3 linked regions of the Homo sapiens genome follow. The protein of the gene in region 2 interacts with the protein of the main gene of each other region in a pairwise test. Each region holds a gene or a part of one and is shown on either strand. Other genes may lie near its edges. The genes, in order: P4HA3, ACOT8 and ACOT1.

What was found.
Region 1: the proteins of ACOT8 (region 2) and P4HA3 interact in binary tests that used the Homo sapiens proteins (3 or more experiments, as listed by UniProt).
Region 3: the proteins of ACOT8 (region 2) and ACOT1 come close enough for resonance energy transfer, tested with the Homo sapiens proteins (one large-scale study listed by BioGRID).

The regions. Positions count from the first base shown.
Region 1 is NC_000011.10:74,280,621-74,284,271, forward strand, and holds part of P4HA3 (prolyl 4-hydroxylase subunit alpha-3 isoform 1 precursor), read right to left. Parts: intron 1-3,651. UniProt on the Homo sapiens protein: Catalyzes the post-translational formation of 4-hydroxyproline in -Xaa-Pro-Gly- sequences in collagens and other proteins.
Region 2 is NC_000020.11:45,847,320-45,850,970, reverse strand, and holds part of ACOT8 (acyl-coenzyme A thioesterase 8), read left to right. Parts: intron 1-2,295; coding exon 2,296-2,521; intron 2,522-3,651. UniProt on the Homo sapiens protein: Catalyzes the hydrolysis of acyl-CoAs into free fatty acids and coenzyme A (CoASH), regulating their respective intracellular levels. Displays no strong substrate specificity with respect to the carboxylic acid moiety of Acyl-CoAs.
Region 3 is NC_000014.9:73,540,115-73,543,865, reverse strand, and holds the end of ACOT1 (acyl-coenzyme A thioesterase 1), read right to left. Parts: intron 2,580-3,751; exon of another isoform or gene 2,565-2,579; coding exon of another isoform or gene 2,459-2,564; intron 2,374-2,458; coding exon 2,171-2,373; intron 817-2,170; coding exon 211-816; 3' UTR 70-210; downstream 1-69. UniProt on the Homo sapiens protein: Catalyzes the hydrolysis of acyl-CoAs into free fatty acids and coenzyme A (CoASH), regulating their respective intracellular levels. More active towards saturated and unsaturated long chain fatty acyl-CoAs (C12-C20).

The sequences.
Region 1 (3,651 bases), on a different chromosome or scaffold from region 2:
CAGGGTCCATTCAACACCTGGTGGTGGAGTAGGTGCTTAGTACTGGTTAAATAAACAAATGAATGAAATAGGGCACTGCCCTTAAAGGTACTCACAGGGCTCAGACCCAGCTCTGGTGCTTCACAGGCAGGCAGAGCAGTGCCTGGGGCAATGAGCTACACAGACAGAAGCTCTTTCCCTTCTCTGAAGCTTCCATAATGTCATTGTCCCTCCTGCTAAACCAGATAGACAGTCTTGGAAAAGCCTCTTCCTTTCCTTGGGCCTGTTTCCCCATCTAAATTCTGCACAGCAAAAGAAACTACCATCAGAGTGAACAGGCAACCTACAAAATGGGAGAAAATTTTTGCAACCTACTCATCTGACAAAGGGCTAATATCCAGAATCTACAATGAACTCAAACAAATTTACAAGAAAAAAACAACCCCATCAAAAAGTGGGCGAAGGACATGAACAGACACTTCTCAAAAGAAGACATTTATGCAGCCAAAAAACACATGAAAAAATGCTCACCATTACTGGCCATCAGAGAAATGCAAATCAAAACCACAATGAGTTACCATCTCACACCAGTTAGAATGGCAATCATTAAAAAGTCAGGAAACAACAGGTGCTGGAGAGGATGTGGAGAAATAGGAACACTTTTACACTGTTGGTGGGACTGTAAACTAGTTCAACCATTGTGGAAGTCAGTGTGGCAATTCCTCAGGGATCTAGAACTAGAAATACCATTTGACCCAGCCATCCCATTACTGGGTATATACCCAAAGGACTACAAATCATGCTGCTATAAAGACACATGCACACGTATGTTTATTGCGGCATTATTCACAATAGCAAAGACTTGGAACCAACCTAAATGTCCAACAATGATAGACTGGATTAAGAAAATGTGGCACATATACACCATGGAATACTATGCAGCCATAAAAAATGATGAGTTCATGTCCTTTGTAGGGACATGGATGAAATTGGAAATCATCATTCTCAGTAAGCTATCACAAGAACAAAAAACCAAACACCACATATTCTCACTCATAGGTGGGAATTGAACAATGAGATCACATGGACACAGGAAGGGGAACATCATACTCTGGGGACTGTTGTGGGGTGGAGGGAGGTGGGAGGGATAGCATTGGGAGATATACCTAATGCTAGATGACGAGTTAGTGGGTGCAGCGCACCAGCATGGCACATGTATACGTATGTAACTAACCTGCACAATGTGCACATGTACCCTAAAACTTAAAGTATAATAATAATAATAATAATAATAATAATAAAAGTTTGGGACAAAAAAATAAAAAATAAATAAAATGCAGCTTATGAACAACATGTGCTTGCGAGTTCCTCTCACATGTGGCTCTACAATCTTAGGAAGCAGGAAATCAGAAGGGGATTGATGTTGCCTCCATCCATTGTCCCTGGTGTCCTGTCCTGAGCCATTTGTAGAGGAGAAACTCATAGAAGAGAGATGCTCCCTTCTGTTCTTTTAGGGCAAAATCAATGGTTTAAAAAAAAAAAACAAAAAAAAACCCTAAGGAATCCCCCCCATCCCAAATTAAGGAGTCACCTTATATTTATTTCCTGTAACAATCATTAATTGTCTACCTACCAGTCACTCGTTTTTTGGAACAAATATTTATTGGTTGTTCTCTGTGCTAAGCACTGTGCTAGGCACTGGAAAAACAATGTTAATCCAGACAATGTCCCTGCCCCTAAGACATCTAATGGGGCCATAATAGGCAAGTATAGAATGCCATGGCAATAGAAAGAGGGACACATAGCCCATTCTTATGAGGGACAGGGAGTCTTTCCAGGATGTCCACAAGACACACTGGAATCATACAGGTGAGAAGTCAAGGGCAGTTCGTTCCAGGCAGACAGAAGAGTGTGCAGCTGGAGCGTCAAGTGCCGGGGGAGATGTGGTAGAAGGGGTTGGCAGCAGCCAGGCCATGGAGACTTGTAAGCACTCAAAGGCAAAAGTGACCCAGTGAAGAGTTTCAGCAAGGGCTTGAGTGGTCAGACCTGACCTTTTAAAGATTTACTCTGGCAGCAATGGGAAGAACATGGGGCAAGGCATTTGCAGAAAGATGATGCCTGCTAGTTTACAGTCTGACTGGGGAGACAGGATGCTGACCCAGGAAACTGTCAGTGATGTCAAACAACACATAAATGGCAGAATACATTTAAAAATTAAGTACCAAACAACCAGTGAGAAAAAGCTTAGAGTTCAGAGGAGGAATAGGTAATTGTATATGGCTCCAAAAAGTGCTCTGAAAAAGAACCAAAGGAGGCCAGAATGATCAGGGCTAGCGGGCCCAGCGAAGGTGCAGGGCTTCAACTGAGTCTTCAAAGATGGGCAGGATGTGGTGAGAGAGAGAAGTGATGAGTGAGTGTGCTTTGGGAAAGGGACAGTGACTAGGAAGCAGAGATATTCAACACAAGCCACTGAGGCATCTGTCTTCAGTTCCCATGGGGAAGCCACTACCATGTCAGTCCAGGGCTGATTCCTGGGAGAGCCACAGACCAGACAGGCATCAGCAGCCCCAGAGAGACACTTCTAGGGGAAGGAAGTGTGCCAAGATCTGTGCATGCTAAATGGACGACATGGCCATGAACATTTAAATCAACGTCTCTGGGTGGGTCACTTCTCCCGTTACCATGGCAACAGGGCTGTTATAAGGAAAAAGCAGCTGCTGGCCAAAAGCTACTACTGCTGGCTCACTGCAAAGCTGAACCTGTTTGCTCCAATTCACCAGTGGGGCTTAATTATCTCAAAAAGCTTCTGTGCAAAGATTCTAGACTTTCCTGGAGGGGCTTTTAGATGAAATGATGATTGCCCCTCTTCTCCCTCCAATCCATGTCTGCTGTTACAGTCTTCCTTAAAAATCAGACATGATCATGCAACTCTCCCATTAAAACTGTCCAACAGCTCTCCTGCTGCCTACAGGATAAAATCCAAACTCCCCGGCATGGCATTTATAGCATCTGCTAATGGTGTCTCACATCTAGCTTCATTTCCTATCACCTCTCGCCCCCATCCCTTGCACACTTCAGCCACCAAGCTTCTGCCCAGTCTCTGAACATACCACATATCAGGCCCTTGCACATACTGTTTTGTCTTTCTGGAATACCCTTTGCTACCTTCTTTCTCTGATAGATGTCACCTCCACAGTGAAGCCTTCCCTGATTCTTCCTCCCTTCCCCATCTCTTCTTCACCCAATTGCCTTTTCTTTAGAGGAAGCCTTGCTTTTTTATGTGCATAGCACAACTCTCTGCCCACACCTCTATGATAGCATGTATCATAGTGTAGTGTAAATATTTGTTTTTCTCCATTGTGCACTAAGTTTCCAAGAGGAAAGAACCAATACTTCATCTCACTGTAAAAGCCCAGCACCCAGGCCAGTGTCTGGCACACAGTGGGCTCTATTCTGTTGACGAATGACTAATGGCTGCCTGGATGAACTGCACATGTTAAGGGCACAATGTCTGGCTTGACAGAAATAATTCTGAGACAATATCTTTAAAGAGGCAACATGCTTATAGAGGTGCATTTTTTCTTGTTAATATTTAGCACACTTCCTAGGGGGAGGATTAAATGTCCTCTTCCCATTGACATCCAGCTTGGCTTGGTGACTTGCAGTGCTTTC
Region 2 (3,651 bases):
AACCAGGGAAGTTCTCTTCCTCTCCAAATCTTCCCTCACCTGCTTGTTGTTGGCTGCCTTATCCCTGGCCAGTGCCTTCTACTCTGGTGGTGGTGGTCTTGTTGTTTTTGAGACAAGGTCTTGCTCTGTCACCTAGGCTGGAGCACAGTGACGCAGTCATGGCTCACTGCAGCCTTGATCTCCTGGCCTCAAGTGATCCTTCCGCCTCAGCCTCTTGATTAGCTGGGACTATAGGCACATGCCACCATGTCCAGCTAATTTTTATTTTTTATTTTTTGTAGAAACAGGGTCTCCCTGTGTTGCCTAGGCTCTTCCACTCTGCTTTGGAGCAGAGACACCTGACAGTGAAGGACCAAATGGCTTCCATATACATCAGGGGTGAAGTGACTGACAGTGGCCCTTGCCTGGGAGAGGCTGAATATACAAACAGACAATGGCTAGACCATGTAGAAAAACAGAACTCTGACGCACAATAGCAGCAACCAGCACAGGAAGCCAGCCTACTATCCACAAGTCAGACTTGTAGGAAGTCAGACCACTATCTTTACCAACCAGTCCAGCAAGCCAAATAATGACCACTGTAACAATTGGCCTCCAAAGCCAGGACTTGATTAATAACTGATAGCTGCCCTAATTTTTGCCCCTGCTTCCAACTTAGGACCAACCGGAGAAAGCCAAATATGTACTCCTAACCAATCACATAGGATGTCCCACTCTTTTTTGAGACAGAGTTTCACTCTTGTTCCCCAGGCTGGAGTGCAGTGGTGCAATTTCGGCTCACTGCAGCCTCCACCTCCCAGGTTCAAGCAGTTCTCCTGCCATAGCCTCCACCTCCCAGCTTCAAGCAATTCTCCTGCTGCAGCCTCCCGAGTAGCTAGGATTACAGGTGTGTGCCACCAGGCCTGGCTAATTTTTTGTATTTTTAGTAGAGACAGGGTTTTGCCATGTTGGCCAGGCTGGTCTTGAACTCCTGGTCTCAGAAGATCTGCCCGCCTCAGCCTCCCAAAGTGTTGGGATTACAGGTGTGAGCCACCGTGCCCAGCCAGGTGTCATGCTTCTAGTTAGCCCACCAACAGCTTCCCCATGCCAACAGCCTGCAATGGGAGCATCCCTGAAGCCTTTTTTTCCACTACAGAGCATTCCCATTCCTTTGCCTGCCTCTAAGTCTCTGCCAAAAGCAAGTGATGGTGGTTGACTTCCTGCTACAACAAGCTCTGATTGGCTGGGCGCAGTGGCTCATGCCTGTAATCTCAACACTTTGGGAGGCCAAGGTGGGTGGATCAGTTGAGGTCAGGAGTTTGAGACCAGCCTGGGCAACACAGTGAAACCCCATCTCTACAAAAAATACAAAAATTTGTTGGGTGTAGCGGCGCACGCCTGTAGTCCCAGCTACTTAGGAGGCTGAGGCATGAGCATGGCTTGAACCTGGGAGGCAGAGGTTGCAGTGAGCCCAGATAGCGCCACTGCACTTCAGCCTCGGTGACCCAGCGAAACTGTCTCTCAAAAAAAAAAAAAAAATTAGCTGGGTATGGTCATGCACCCCTGTAGTCCCCCCCCACTCAGGAGGCTGAGTCACAGGAATCGCTTGAACCTGAGAGGTGGAGGTTGCAGTGAGCCGAGATTACACCACTGTACTCCAGCCTGGGTGACAGAGCAAGACTCCATCTCAAACAAACAAAAAAAAGAACAAGCGCTGAATAAATAGCCTTTGTTTGTTCTCAAAAAAGAAAACAACAACAGAATAAACAGTAAACAGGCTGCAGGCTAGATTTACTGCTCCCTGATCTAGAATAATGGTTTTGGACTGATGACAAGATCCCAGGCATAGATGGAGCAAGATAGAAGCAAGGAGTATTAATTTTATTTAACAAACACATATAGAGCCCTCACTATGTGCCAGATATTATTCTAAACACTTTACAACTACGGATTCATTTCATTATCATTAAAATCCTGTAAGCGATGAGCACCATGATGATCCCCAGTTTGCAAATAAGCACACTGCTCAGAGAAGTGAAGGGTCACACGGCTGGTGAGTGGTGGAGCCAGGATTTGAATGCAAGGAATCTGTCAATGTCTCTGCTGTTTGTGCTGTTAGAGAAAAGCTCCACCTGCACAGGGAGAAGCCTGATGACAGGGCCTGGTGGTCTCTGTATCCCTGGGCCTGGACCTTAGCAGACCTCAGTTAGTAGTCACTGAGATGAAATGGAATGGAAGATGAGTAGTAGAGTGCCTGTCAGGCGTTGTGATGATGACAGGGCCTGTGGACCCACTGTGTCCTTGTGCCCACTGCAGGGGACCCGAAGCTGCCAGTACTGTACCAAGTGGAGCGGACACGAACAGGGTCGAGCTTCTCGGTGCGCTCTGTGAAGGCCGTGCAACATGGGAAGCCCATCTTCATCTGCCAGGCCTCCTTCCAGCAGGCCCAGCCCAGCCCCATGCAGCACCAGTTCTCCATGCCCACTGTGCCACCACCAGAAGAGCTGCTTGACTGTGAGACCCTCATTGACCAGTATTTAAGGTGAGAGACCTGGAGGCTCCATGGCAGACTTTTCAAAATGCAGCTGCTATCTGTTTGTGGGTCATAGAATCCTTTAGTGGGTCTTGACCAGCATTTTTAAAATACAGATTAGAAAAGAAGATACTGGAGTGAATAATATGTATGTATTAAGGGCAAGAATCCTTTTGTGAAACTTGAGGTTTAGTCATGTGTGTTTCTGGTGTGTGTCTGTACTGGGTCATGGTATAAAATGAAGGGCTTGGCCGGGTGCAGTGGCGCATACCTATAATCCCAGCACTTTGGGAAGCCAAGGCAGGAGGATTGCTTGAGACCAGGAGTTGGATACTAGCCTCGCCAACATAGCAAGACTCCATCTCTAATTTAAAAATAAGGCTGGGGCTGGGTGTGGGGGCTCATACCTATAATAACACTTTGGGAAGCCCAAGTGGGAGGATCACCTGAGCCCAGGAGTTCAAGACCAGCCTGGGCAACATGGTGAAACCCTGTCTCTATAAAAAATACAAAAATTAGCCGGGTGTCGGGGCATGTGTCTGTAGTCCCAGCTACTTGGGAGGCTGAGGCGGGGGGATCACTTGAGCCTGGGAGGTGGAGGCTGCAGTGAGCCGAGATCGTGTTACTGTGCTCCAGCCTGGGCAACAAGAGCAAGACTCTGTCTGAAAAAAGAAAAAAAGAATATATATTTTGTTGTTGTTTATATATATACATGTTTGTTTGTTTTTGAGATGGAGTCTTGCTCTTGTTGCCCAGGCTGGAGTGCAGTGACACCATCTCGGCTCACTGCAGCCTCTGACTCCCAGACTCAAGTGATCCTCCCGCCTCAGCCTCCCAAGTAGCTGGGATTACAGGCACCTGCTACCATGCCCAGCTAATTTTGTATTTTTAGTAGAGATGGCGTTTCACCATGCTATCCAGGCTGGTCTCAAACTCTTGATCTCAGGTGATCCACCCACCTTGACCTCCTAAAGTGCTGGGATTATAGGCATGAGCCACCATACCTGGGAAAAAAAACCATATATATATTTTATATATATATGTATATAGAAATACTTCCGTAACCACTTGTTAAGTACCACCTCCCCAGCCCCCTAAGTGATTCCCTCTCTCCCCCAGGCCCCTGGTCCAGCAACTTA
Region 3 (3,751 bases), on a different chromosome or scaffold from region 2:
GTTTCCTACAGTTACTCCCTTCCCAAACTGATAAAGTATACAGTTTATAAAAATCTTAAAAACTCATTCTTACTGGTAAATTCATTTTAATAATGAGGGGAAGAAACTTTAAGAAGTTATGAGAAAGAATGAATACACATACACACACTAAATGTGGCAGATGTTTCCAGGAGAGATTAGCAACAGAGAGGCCACATGATCAAATAAAATTTACACTTTTGATGGGATTGTCCCCTCGTGGCCACCCAAGTGTTTGTGGAAGAAAGTCTGGAGTTGTTTCCAAGCATCCACCTGAGCCATGGCATGAGCCCTGGGCTCCCCTCCCCAGATAATAGGACTGCCCACCAAGGCATGCAGGGAAGCCCGACACAGGGGGAAGTAAGGAGGCTCAATATAGTGCCCTGTCTCTGGGTAACAGATGATCTGGGGCTTTCTCCTCCCATGGGCCTGCAAGCGTTTACAGGCCTCATTAGCATAGAACTCACTCTTCCAGTTGTGGTCATCCTGACCTACCAGGAACAGGAAGGTGCTCTCTGCCCTTTCCACAGGAATGAAGCTCTTCTGGTCAGGTCCTTCCAAAGGGCTGTTCAGGACATCCACAATGTCTGCATAGCCATCTTTGGTCACCTTGATGCGATTTCTGTTGACGCCCACAGGGGGCAGGGTCTCGCCCTTGTAGCGTAAGGTTCCCCCAACATTGGCCACAGAGCCGTTGATGACGACAGCAGCCGTGATGCCCTTCAGGAAAGAGGCCATGGAAAGGCAGAGCTCACCCCCTTTGGAAATTCCAAGCAGCCCAACTCCTGGACCTTTTACCTGAGAAAGGGACAAAGGAAAAAGAAGAAGAATGGCTCCACAAACAGTGGAATATGGTGAGTTGTGCCCACCCTGGAAGTTAGTTGAACCTGAGTCTGAATCTGGGTTCTACCATTTACCCAGATTTGCAGCTTTGGGAATTTACCTCCCCTCTATCTCTTCCTTTCCACAATTTGTCCATCACCACTCTTGGTGATAACCATGTGGAAGATCTATCAATTACTCTGGTTTCTCAGTTCCTTAATCTCATTATCTCCCATGATCTTTTTCTGTCTCCCACCTGAGCCACCCATTCCCACTGTCATAACTAAACTGAGTCGTCATCAACAAGTACGTCATCTCATGGCCGGGCGTGGTGGCTGACGCCTGTAATCCCAACAGTTTGGGAGGCTGAGGCGGGTGGATCATTTGAGGTCAGGAGTTCGAGACCAGCCTGGCCAATATGGTGAAACCCTGTCTCTACTAAAAATACAAAAATTAGCCAGGCAGAAGTGGCATGCGCCTGTAGTCCCAGCTACTCAGGAGGCCGAGGCAGGAGAATCGCTTGAACCTGGGAGGTGGAGGTTGCAGTAAGCCGAGATCATGCCACTGCACTCCAGCCTCGTTGACACGGCAAGACTCCGTCTTAAAAAAAAAAAAAAAAAAAGAAAGAAAAAACATACTGGAATTTAAAATTGCATAATACCAACTACAAATATCTTTACTAGCAGGAAATATAGTAATATAGAATTGAATAGAAACTGTCTATAAGAGGCCAGGTGTGGTGGCTCATGCCTGTAATTCCAGCACTCTGGGAGGCCGAGGTGGGCAGATCACTTGAGGTCAGGAGTTTGAGACCAGCCTGGCCAACATGGCGAAACCCCATCTCTACTAAAAAAAAAAAATACAAAAATTAGGCTAGGCATAGTGGCTCATGCCTGTAATCCAGCACCTGGGGAGGCCAAGGCAGGTGGATCATTTGAGGTCAGGAATTCAAGACCAGCCTGACAAATATTGTGAAACCCCGTCTCTACTGAAAATACAAAAATTATCCAGGCATGTTGGCAGGTGCCTGTAATCCCAGCTACTTGGGAGGCTGGGGCACAAGAATCACTTGAACTTGGGAGGTGGAGGTTGCAGTGAGCCAAGATCGCACCACTGGACTCCAGCCTGGCAACAGAGTGAGACTCCATCTCAAAAAAAGAAAGAAGAAGAAGAAGAAAGAAAGAAACTGTCTATAAGAAGTGACTAAAAAAGGTAGTGTGTGTTGGGGTAGGGAATGGCTGTCATGAATGAGCTAACTTCTGTGAAAACCCAGACCATTTAAGAAGAGACCTGATACATCATAGCCCATAAATCTGAGAGAAGAACTCACCTCAGGATGACTGAGCAAGTAGTTCACAGCTTCTTCAAAGTACTCCAGATGGAGCGTCTCCATGGTCTTGGGGAGGTCTTCATAGTTATAGTAAGCCAGAGCCATCACAGCAAAACCCTTCCCAGCCAGCAGACTAGCCCGATACTCCAGCAGGCCACCTCCAGTTCCGAACATGTCCACAATGCCAGGAAAGGGCCCAGGTTCTTGGGAAGAAACAAAACAAAATGCAAAACTAAGCTATTCCTGAAACAGTTGGATGGTTTCTTACCAAGTTAAACATATACTTACCACACATGTGACCCAGCAATCCCACTCCTAGGTATCTACCCACGAGAAATGAAAACCTGTGTTCGTCCAGAAACTTCTGGCAAGTGTTTATAGTGACTTTATTCATTGTAGCCAAAGACTGGAAACAACCCAAATGTCCTTTAACTGGTGAATGAATCCATTTAATGGTGCACCACCAAGAAACAAAAAGAAAGACTGCTACATAGAAGAGCACAAATTCCTCTCCAGTGCACTCAACAGAATGCACTTATTCAATGGAGACAGACTCAAAAGGCTACTCATTCTGAATGACTCCACTTACTGAATATTTTTATCATTTACATTAAAGGTTTTGTGTTTCACACAAAATTAAAGAATAATAATGCAGGCTGGGTCTGGTGGCTCACGCCTGTAATCCCAGCACTTTGGGAGGCTGAGACGGGTGGATCACCTGAGGTCAGGAGTTCGAGACCAGCCTGGCCAACATGGTGAAACCCCATCTGTACTAAAAATACAAAAATTAGCTGGGTGTGGTGGCGGCCACCTGTAATCCCAGCTACTCGGGAGGCTGAGGGAGGAGAATCGCTTGAACCCGGGAGTTGGAGGTTGCAGTGAGCCAAGATTGTGCCACTACTCCAGCCTGGGCGAAAGAGCGAGACACTGTCTCAAAAAAAAAAAAAAAAAAAGAATGCAAACACCTTACAGGCAACACTTTTAAGACATAGTTCAGTGCTGATACCCGCAAACCATCAACGTCCCACAGACCCCTGTGCCCTTTCCTCTCTTTCCAGTATCCTGGACTTTCTGTGTATCACTCTTGGTTTTCTTCATAGTATTACCACTTAGATTATGTACCTTAAACAATATTTTATTTTGCCTATTTTTTGAACTGTATCTAAATGGAATGATACTGAATGTGTTCTCCTAGTGTTTGACTGTTTCACTCAACAGTGGTTTGGAGATTCATCCATGTTGATTCTTTTTTATTTTTTTCTTTTCTTTTGTATATCTTGATAGATGTTGATTCTTCTAGCTGTAGTTCAATCACTTTGACTGCTGGAAATATACCTCAATTTATTAATCTGTTCTATTGTTGATGGACATTTGGACTGTTTCCAGTTGACTTTGCTCTTTTTTTAAATTAATCCAGACTGCTCATCTGCAATGGCTTTCCTCTTATAAGGAATATGCCTCCTGGTGCACATGTACAAGTAGAATAACATATTTAACTTTGTAAGTTAAGACAAATTGTTGCCCAGAGCAGATGAATATGTTGACTCCTTCTAGCAGTGAGTTTCATTTCCTCCACATACT